2 linked regions of the Homo sapiens genome follow. The protein of the gene in region 1 binds, or shares a complex with, the protein of each later gene. Each region holds a gene or a part of one and is shown in the gene's direction. Other genes may lie near its edges.

Region 1 (3,600 bases):
AAGTGCTGGGATTACAGGTGTGAGCCACCGCGCCCAGCCGTAACAAATCTTTTAACTCTGAAAAATACACTATTTGGGATGAGTCACCAGTAAAGTATAATTCCATATGTAGTAGCATAAAAAATGTCTAGATGTCCAGGGTCTCTTCTAAAATTCTATCACTCTGGAAGATTAACAACAGTCTTACTAAATAACTTTACACATGAATGAAAAATGGAGAAAAATTCTATTAAGATGCCAATCTTATTAAAATGAAATGGGCTATTCCCTCCTCCCGCCAGAAAAAAAAAGGCTGGGAAAATAAAATTCACAAGTTGGTTTTTTTCTTTTTTCTTTTTTTACGAGTTGGTTTTAAGGTTATTTCTAATATTCATTTTTCCTAATGACACCAATATATCGCCATTTACCTGATTTTAAAACTGCAACTGGTTAGTTTTAAGTGAACACAAGTGCTATGTTTTTGTAGCTTTACCATATTCAATCTGTAACTTACTTAATAAAAGACCTTAAATTCATAATGCATGCACGGTGATCAAAATATGAGCACTCCTCCAAGCTCTGCTACTATAACGTTTGCTCCTTTGGGAGCATAATGATATGGTTTTCTTTTTTTTTTTTTTTTGAGACGGAGTCTCGCTCGGTCGCCCAGGCTGGAGTGCAGTGATGCGATCTTGGCTCATAGCAACCTCCGCCTCCCGGGTTCAAGCGATTCTCCTGCCTCAGCCTCCGGAGGAACTGGGACTACAGGCGCCCGCCACCACGCCCGGCTGATTATTCGTATTTTTGGTAGAGATGGGGTTTCACCATGTTGGCCAGGCTAGTCTCGAACTCCTGACCTCAAGTGATCCACCTGCCTCGGTCTCCAAACATAATGATCTGTTTTAAGGTTGCAAGTATTTCCATTAGGTATTTATGGGGTGAGTAGGGTGGGGCAGATGTGTCCCGGAATGGGGCACAGCGGACAGGAAGTAACGGTTTATAACAACGTGAACGCTTCTGACGTGTAGCGGGAGCTTCAGAAAGCGTGGCCGAATCTGCAGCTCTTAACAAATGGCTCGTTCCCAAACCTTAGCCTCAACTCCTTCTGAGCGATAGGGGCATGCTACCAGCACGGGGGGAAATGAGATACAAGAAACGCCCGAAAGGGAAAAACAAGGCTGGGCTGTTTCCTTCCTTTGGGGTCAAGACAGAGGCACAGAAGGCCCAGGTCTGGGAGGTTGGATCACCTCCGGCTGGATGTTGAGCCGGGTGGGAGCCCAAACAGCAGGGGGCCCACAGGAGGCCGGCCCAGGCAGCCTCGCGTCCACTTACCAGGCCAGGCCCAGGCACGTCCCCAGCGACAGCAGGCTCAGGCACGTTCGGGGGTCTGCCCAGCCCCCGCCTCCGCTGCTCCGGGCCACGGGGGTCTTCCCGCCCTCGCTCCGCTTCCCGGGCTCCGCAGCAGGGGCTCCCTTGGGCCCCGACTTCTTCCGGCTCTTCACCTCAGACATGTCTGGAGACCCTAGGACGACAAGCCCAGGGCAGCTTCTTCACCAGGGGGAGCAGGACGTGGCCGCCTTGGCGTTCGTGGGAACCCTGGGCGGTGACCGCGCCCCCTCACAGACTTGGCACCGCCCAGAGCCCAGCCCCTTCCCTCTCCCCGGCATCCTCGTTGCTTCACTGAGTCTTTCAGCTGCCAGCTCCATAGTTCCCCTAGGAGAGGTGGGCGGCGACCTCAACCCACAGCGCCTTCCACTGCGATATTGCTCCAAATCCGAGGAAATTCAAACTCCCGGGCGCGCGCAGGCCGACGGGACCCGAGGAGGAGGGGCAGGACGAAGGGGTCGCGCGCGCCACGTCGGGCGCGCCGCCGCTGCCCGAGTCCGGCATTGGTGGGAACGCGGCGCGTCCCTGAGGCTTAGCCACGCCCCGTCCGCGGGGTAGGCGGGCACTTCTACGCGCGCGGGCATGAGCCGTGGCAGGAGTGCGCGGCGGCAGCGGTGGCCGCCCCTTGGGGCTTGGGGTGTGTTTATTTGCATAAGCGGGCGCGCGCCGTCCGGGCTGGGTGGATCCGGCGGGATTTGACTGCTCCGCTGTCCAGAGGCGGAGAAGAAGAGGTAGCGAGTGGACGTGACTGCTCTATCCCGGGCAAAAGGGATAGAACCAGAGGTGGGGAGTCTGGGCAGTCGGCGACCCGCGAAGACTTGAGGTGCCGCAGCGGCATCCGGAGTAGCGCCGGGCTCCCTCCGGGGTGCAGCCGCCGTCGGGGGAAGGGCGCCACAGGCCGGGAAGACCTCCTCCCTTTGTGTCCAGTAGTGGGGTCCACCGGAGGGCGGCCCGTGGGCCGGGCCTCACCGCGGCGCTCCGGGACTGTGGGGTCAGGCTGCGTTGGGTGGACGCCCACCTCGCCAACCTTCGGAGGTCCCTGGGGGTCTTCGTGCGCCCCGGGGCTGCAGAGATCCAGGGGAGGCGCCTGTGAGGCCCGGACCTGCCCCGGGGCGAAGGGTATGTGGCGAGACAGAGCCCTGCACCCCTAATTCCCGGTGGAAAACTCCTGTTGCCGTTTCCCTCCACCGGCCTGGAGTCTCCCAGTCTTGTCCCGGCAGTGCCGCCCTCCCCACTAAGACCTAGGCGCAAAGGCTTGGGTAAGTTGACCTCCTCGCTTTTCTCCCCGAGCCAGGTTCTTTGGAGGCTTGGTAGCTGATTTCAGGGACTGAGAATTTGAGGACATGGAATATTTGATAACCATCCTGCTCCTGTACCAGGAAGAGAAATTCTGTAATGAGGAAGTAGTAAACTTGGGGTTTTCGTGGATAAACGTGCGCTGTTTTCTGTTTTACGTCCATGAAGAGTTTTGGCTTTCCATTTTGTTGTGGGTTACAAAAGGTTTTGAGACTTAGTTCAGATAAGTTGTGCAGTTTTAAAACGTATTTAAGATTTGCATATTTTAGTTTAACAGGACTAGGTGAAATTGGAAATTAGTTTCAGAAAACCAGAGTGTCTTATTTGCTTAGCTATTGGACATCACCTAAAAAATTCATTCATTCTTGTTTTTTCACATCGAATTTCATTACTATAAATTAAGGAACATTTTATGTTTAAGAGGACAAAAACGTTATTAACATTTTAAAAAATGAGAGTTTTGATTCGAATCAATAACTTTTTATCAGTTTTGTGCCCCTGCTGGGCATTTTGTAAGCCTTGACAAGCATAGGCAAATGCCCTACGTCCGTCCCTGTTTTTCCAAGTGCTACATTTGGTGACTTCAAAAACAGTCATTGAAGCTTGATAATTATTGCCCCCTTCTGTGAGCTCCAAGTTACTTGTGCTCTGTTTTTGCACTTCGGGCATTCACATTCCCACTCTCTCTCTCTTTTTCTTCTTTGAGTAGACTGTGAATTATTTCAGGCAAATGACTCAATCTTTTCTGTAGTCTTGGTGTCTGACATATAGGGAGGGGCACAAATGTGTATTGAATGAATGAATTGATAAACCCGTTTAGACTCTTTCACTCTATACATTGTGTAAAGTTCTGTTAATGTTTTGAAAACTTGCAGATATTGTGAACTGGGTTTTATGCCCATGGAAAAATTTGCATTATATTTGAAATAAAGTTGCTAG
Region 2 (4,112 bases), on another chromosome or scaffold:
AAGAACAGGCTGCCTTGAGAGAATTACAAGGGGACTGAGCCTGGGGAGAGGGCAGCCTTGGGTGCCTCCAGGTGGCCTGGGCATGGTTCTGCTGACAGAGTTCTCAGGTACACCCCGGCCTAGGTGACCCGTGAGGTCCTTTGGGATGAATGCTCATGGCTGTTGGATTTCCAGGTTACCAGCTCCCTTCCCTTAATACCAAGATGGGGGGGTCACCTTCTAGTGCTAGTCTTCCCTGCAGTTGCTTCTCTTTTGCCCTGGAATGCCGGGTGGAGACCCTGCTACTCCTTGTGCGAGAGGGCAGACCCCGTTTTCTTCCCGCCTCTCCAGACTGTCCTCTAGGGAGCGTGGGGAGAGCCCGGGTTTACGTGGGTCCCTGTGCTGGCAGGCTTACATCCTGAGCATGGAGCCCTGTGGCCACTGCCTCATTATCAACAATGTGAACTTCTGCCGTGAGTCCGGGCTCCGCACCCGCACTGGCTCCAACATCGACTGTGAGAAGTTGCGGCGTCGCTTCTCCTCGCTGCATTTCATGGTGGAGGTGAAGGGCGACCTGACTGCCAAGGTACACTCACTATCTGTGGAGGGAGACAGGGTGGGGGGCAGTGGGTGGGGAAGTATCTTTTGAGGGACTCCAAAAGCCAGCTGACTCCCCAGGCGAGCCCTTACATCTGGAGGACCATGGGAGGTAGGACGGCCCAGCGGCTACAGGTTCAAGTTCAGACGCAGAAGTCCGGGTTTGAGGACTGGCTCTCTCGGCCACCTGCTGTGTGACCTCCTGTGCCTCAGTTTCCTTGTCTGGAAAGCAGGAATAGTACCTGCCTCCTTGGGTTGTTTTGGGGGTTAGATGAACAGTGCCCAAGCGTAGCACCTTCTCCCCAAAAATGGTGGCTATTACGACTGCTGGGACTGTCAGCACTTCGGTACTGGCCCTGGGAAACCGAGAAAGTGCTCTGCCCAGGCGTTTGGGTTGGGCCCTTTGTTGTTTTATTTTTTGGGGGGGGCGGGGGCACAGAGTCCCACTCTGTCATCCAGGCTGGAGTACAGTGGCGCGATCTCGGCTCACTGCAACCTCCACCTCCCAGGTTCAAGCAATTCTCCTGCCTCAGCCTCCTGAGTAGCTGGGATTACAGGTGTGTGCCACCATGCCTGGCTAAATTTTTTTTTTTGTATTTTTAGTAGAGACGGGGTTTCACCATGTTGGCCAGGCTGGTCTCGAACTCGTGACCTCAAATGATCCACCTGCCTTGGCCTCCCAAAGTGCTGGGATTACAGGCGTGAACCACCATGCCTGGCCAGGCTGGGCCCTTTTATTGTTAGGAACGGTCCAGTCTGCATCTAGACCTATCCGTGCTTCTGGCTCACCTGCAGCCCTCTCTTGTAGAAAATGGTGCTGGCTTTGCTGGAGCTGGCGCAGCAGGACCACGGTGCTCTGGACTGCTGCGTGGTGGTCATTCTCTCTCACGGCTGTCAGGTAGGAAGCCTCCCACTGTTCCCTGGGCAGGCATTGGGTACTGGCCGTGCCAAGAGGCTGTGCAGGGGCCATGTCCCTTCTTGTGTCCAAAACACCCTTGGCTTTGTGGAAAAGGGCTGTGGGGCCCTGCCCACCTCCTGTTGTTTTCTTGGGAGCCATGTGGTCCTCTGAGGAGTTGGCTGCACCGTCCTGGGCAGGTCGGTGTTCCTGGGAGAAGCCCTCTGGGAGAGGGAGGGCAGAGACCAGGTCTGCTCACGAAGCTCCTGCACCCAGAGTTTGTTCAGAGGCGGGTACAGCACACATGTTGTCTCAGCTCCTGTCTCTGTCCTGTGAGGCACTGCCCCAGGCCCCTTGCTGCTGGTGGGACTCAGGACACCAGGCCCACTGGGGGCTTGGCCCCTTACGTATTTGTCACTGTGATTAAGCCCTTACCCCTTACTGGGCCTCAGTTTCCTCATCTTTTAAGTTGAGGAGTTGGACAGATCACAGTTATAAGCTGGGGCCTGGAGTCCCCCTGTGGTCTGCACGGTGTTTTGAAAACTGGCAAATTTCACATAAAAATCAGGATTTCTAGTTTCTCTTGACAAACCGCAAAGGTCTGGCCTGACGAGGCCAGCATCTTCAGCCAGTAAAACTCCAGCCTGTGGCTGGGCAGGGCTTTCCCTTTGGTCCTTTCTCTCATAATATGGTCCCTAGAGCTCATGAAGAATGTGGACTCCCAGGCCCTACCCTGGACCTCTTCATTCCAAGTCCGCCCAGCAACAAGGTTTCCAGGTGATTTCCATGCCCTTGAGGTCTGAGCTGAACTGATTTAAAGCAGCCACTCTCAGCGTTGAGCTGCCTCAGTCAGAGGGGCCTGGAGGACCATACTGCTGATTAGGAGGTCTGGGTGGGGCCCAGGAATCACATTTCTTACAAGTTCCCAAGCGATATTGATGCCGCTGCTGCAGGGGCCAAACTTTGAGAACCACTGGTCTAGAGGCCGCAGCCAGCACTCTCCAGGCACACTGGCCCCTAGAGGCACATGAGTTTGACATGCAACCCCTTGCTGTCAAGGTGTCTTTCCAGATGCTGACCAGGGTCTTTCCAGAACCAACCTGCTCTGTCTCAATCAGCCTCGTGCCCCTGGCTTTGACCTTCCAAATCCTTGGCTCCCACAAAACCTCTGAACAGGCTGTTGGATTCCTACTCCAACTTCTTGGTTTTGTAACCAGGGTTCTTGGTCTTCTAGGCCAGCCACCTGCAGTTCCCAGGGGCTGTCTACGGCACAGATGGATGCCCTGTGTCGGTCGAGAAGATTGTGAACATCTTCAATGGGACCAGCTGCCCCAGCCTGGGAGGGAAGCCCAAGCTCTTTTTCATCCAGGCCTGTGGTGGGGGTAAGCAGCTCCTCAGCCTCCCTCTGGGTGGGTCTGGTGGGGAGGGAGCCGCCACCTGCTTCTTTCTCCAGCCTGCCCCTCACAGGGCCCATGAGGTCTCTCCAGGCAGTCAGAGGGTACCACACATGGTCCCTTTTTGGCAGCACCTCTGTCTGGCTGGAGCAGGCCCTGCTCTGTCTGCTTTGTAGAGGTCAGAGTCTTCTGTTTCATGGCACAGTGGCATCATGGGCTCAAGTAACTTTGGCAGCTTCAATTCCAAAGACTTGGCAAAAAGAAAGCAGAAGAGAGAGGAGAAACCTCTTTTTATTTTTCTTGTCACCATTCTCCTGACCTCCATCAACTAGACCCCGTTTCCACTATCCCAGAGAAAGGGTGGCCACAGCTAAACTGCATGGAGAAACCAAAGAATTTAAATATTGGAATTTTCAAAAGTGTAGTTGTGGGGGTTCGAGGAACATTTAAAGATTACTTGGGCTGGGTGCAGTGTCTCATGCCCAACACTTTGGGAGGCCGAGGCAGGAGGATTGCTTGAGCCAGGAGTTCGAGACCAGCCTGGGCAACACAGCGAGACCCTGTCTCTATTTTTGTTTTGTTTTTTAAATGTATTACTTGGATTCTTTGTAGTTTTGCTGTATGCTCTAATTTTAAACTTAACTCCTATTACAGTGTTATCTGATTTTCTTATAAAAAAAGAGGGAAGAGAGACAAACATGGGGTTCCTAGTTTGTGGGTCATGACAGGAATATCAGGGAGCGCTAGAAATTCTGTCCCAGGGAGTCCCCTCTGCCCTAGGCTCTCCACGGACTGGAACATTCAGAAGGTATATCAGTTCCTTGCCTCCAGCCTGATCTGCCAGAGAAGTGAGCACTGTTATACCATAGCGCTGTCCAGCTCGTCCAGCTGTGACATGGGCACCTGTGGTCTATTTCTCCTGTGCACATCCAACTGCCCCATCCCTATTCCACGTTGGTGGAGTTGGGTGGAGGCTACCTAGGAGAGCAGTCTCTGGTCACATCATTCATCCAGTAAGTGTTTATTGAGCACCATCTGTATATACCAGGCTGTGCGTTAGGTGCTGGGGATAGGGGAAAAACAGAGTTTCAGTCTCCTGGAATTTATAATTTGACATGAACTGTATTAAGTCACTGTCATGACCCATGCCCATAACTTGACCACAAGTGATTGAGAACACTTGATTAACCCTGGATGGGCTACTGACCTATCTATCACACAGCCCTGGGCCAGTTCATCTCTAGACA

What was found.
Region 2: the proteins of APAF1 (region 1) and CASP9 are in contact, whole or in part, in a crystal structure (PDB 4RHW), measured with the Homo sapiens proteins. Residues at the interface, in NP_863651.1 of Homo sapiens: Thr22, Ser23, Tyr24, Met26, Asp27, Ile30, Ser31, Ile37, Glu40, Glu41, Arg44; in NP_001220.2 of Homo sapiens: Asp23, Trp26, Asp27, Leu30, Arg36, Pro37, His38, Glu41, Gln44, Arg45.

Annotation. Positions count from the first base shown.
Region 1 is NC_000012.12:98,643,212-98,646,811, forward strand, and holds the start of APAF1 (apoptotic protease-activating factor 1), read left to right. Parts: upstream 1-2,078; 5' UTR 2,079-2,624; intron 2,625-3,600. Other genes in the region: IKBIP (inhibitor of nuclear factor kappa-B kinase-interacting protein), read right to left, coding at 1,312-1,490. UniProt on the Homo sapiens protein: Oligomeric Apaf-1 mediates the cytochrome c-dependent autocatalytic activation of pro-caspase-9 (Apaf-3), leading to the activation of caspase-3 and apoptosis. This activation requires ATP. Isoform 6 is less effective in inducing apoptosis.
Region 2 is NC_000001.11:15,503,352-15,507,463, reverse strand, and holds part of CASP9 (caspase-9 isoform alpha precursor), read left to right. Parts: intron 1-330; exon of another isoform or gene 331-388; coding exon 389-565; intron 566-1,384; coding exon 1,385-1,474; intron 1,475-2,705; coding exon 2,706-2,853; intron 2,854-4,112. UniProt on the Homo sapiens protein: Involved in the activation cascade of caspases responsible for apoptosis execution. Binding of caspase-9 to Apaf-1 leads to activation of the protease which then cleaves and activates effector caspases caspase-3 (CASP3) or caspase-7 (CASP7).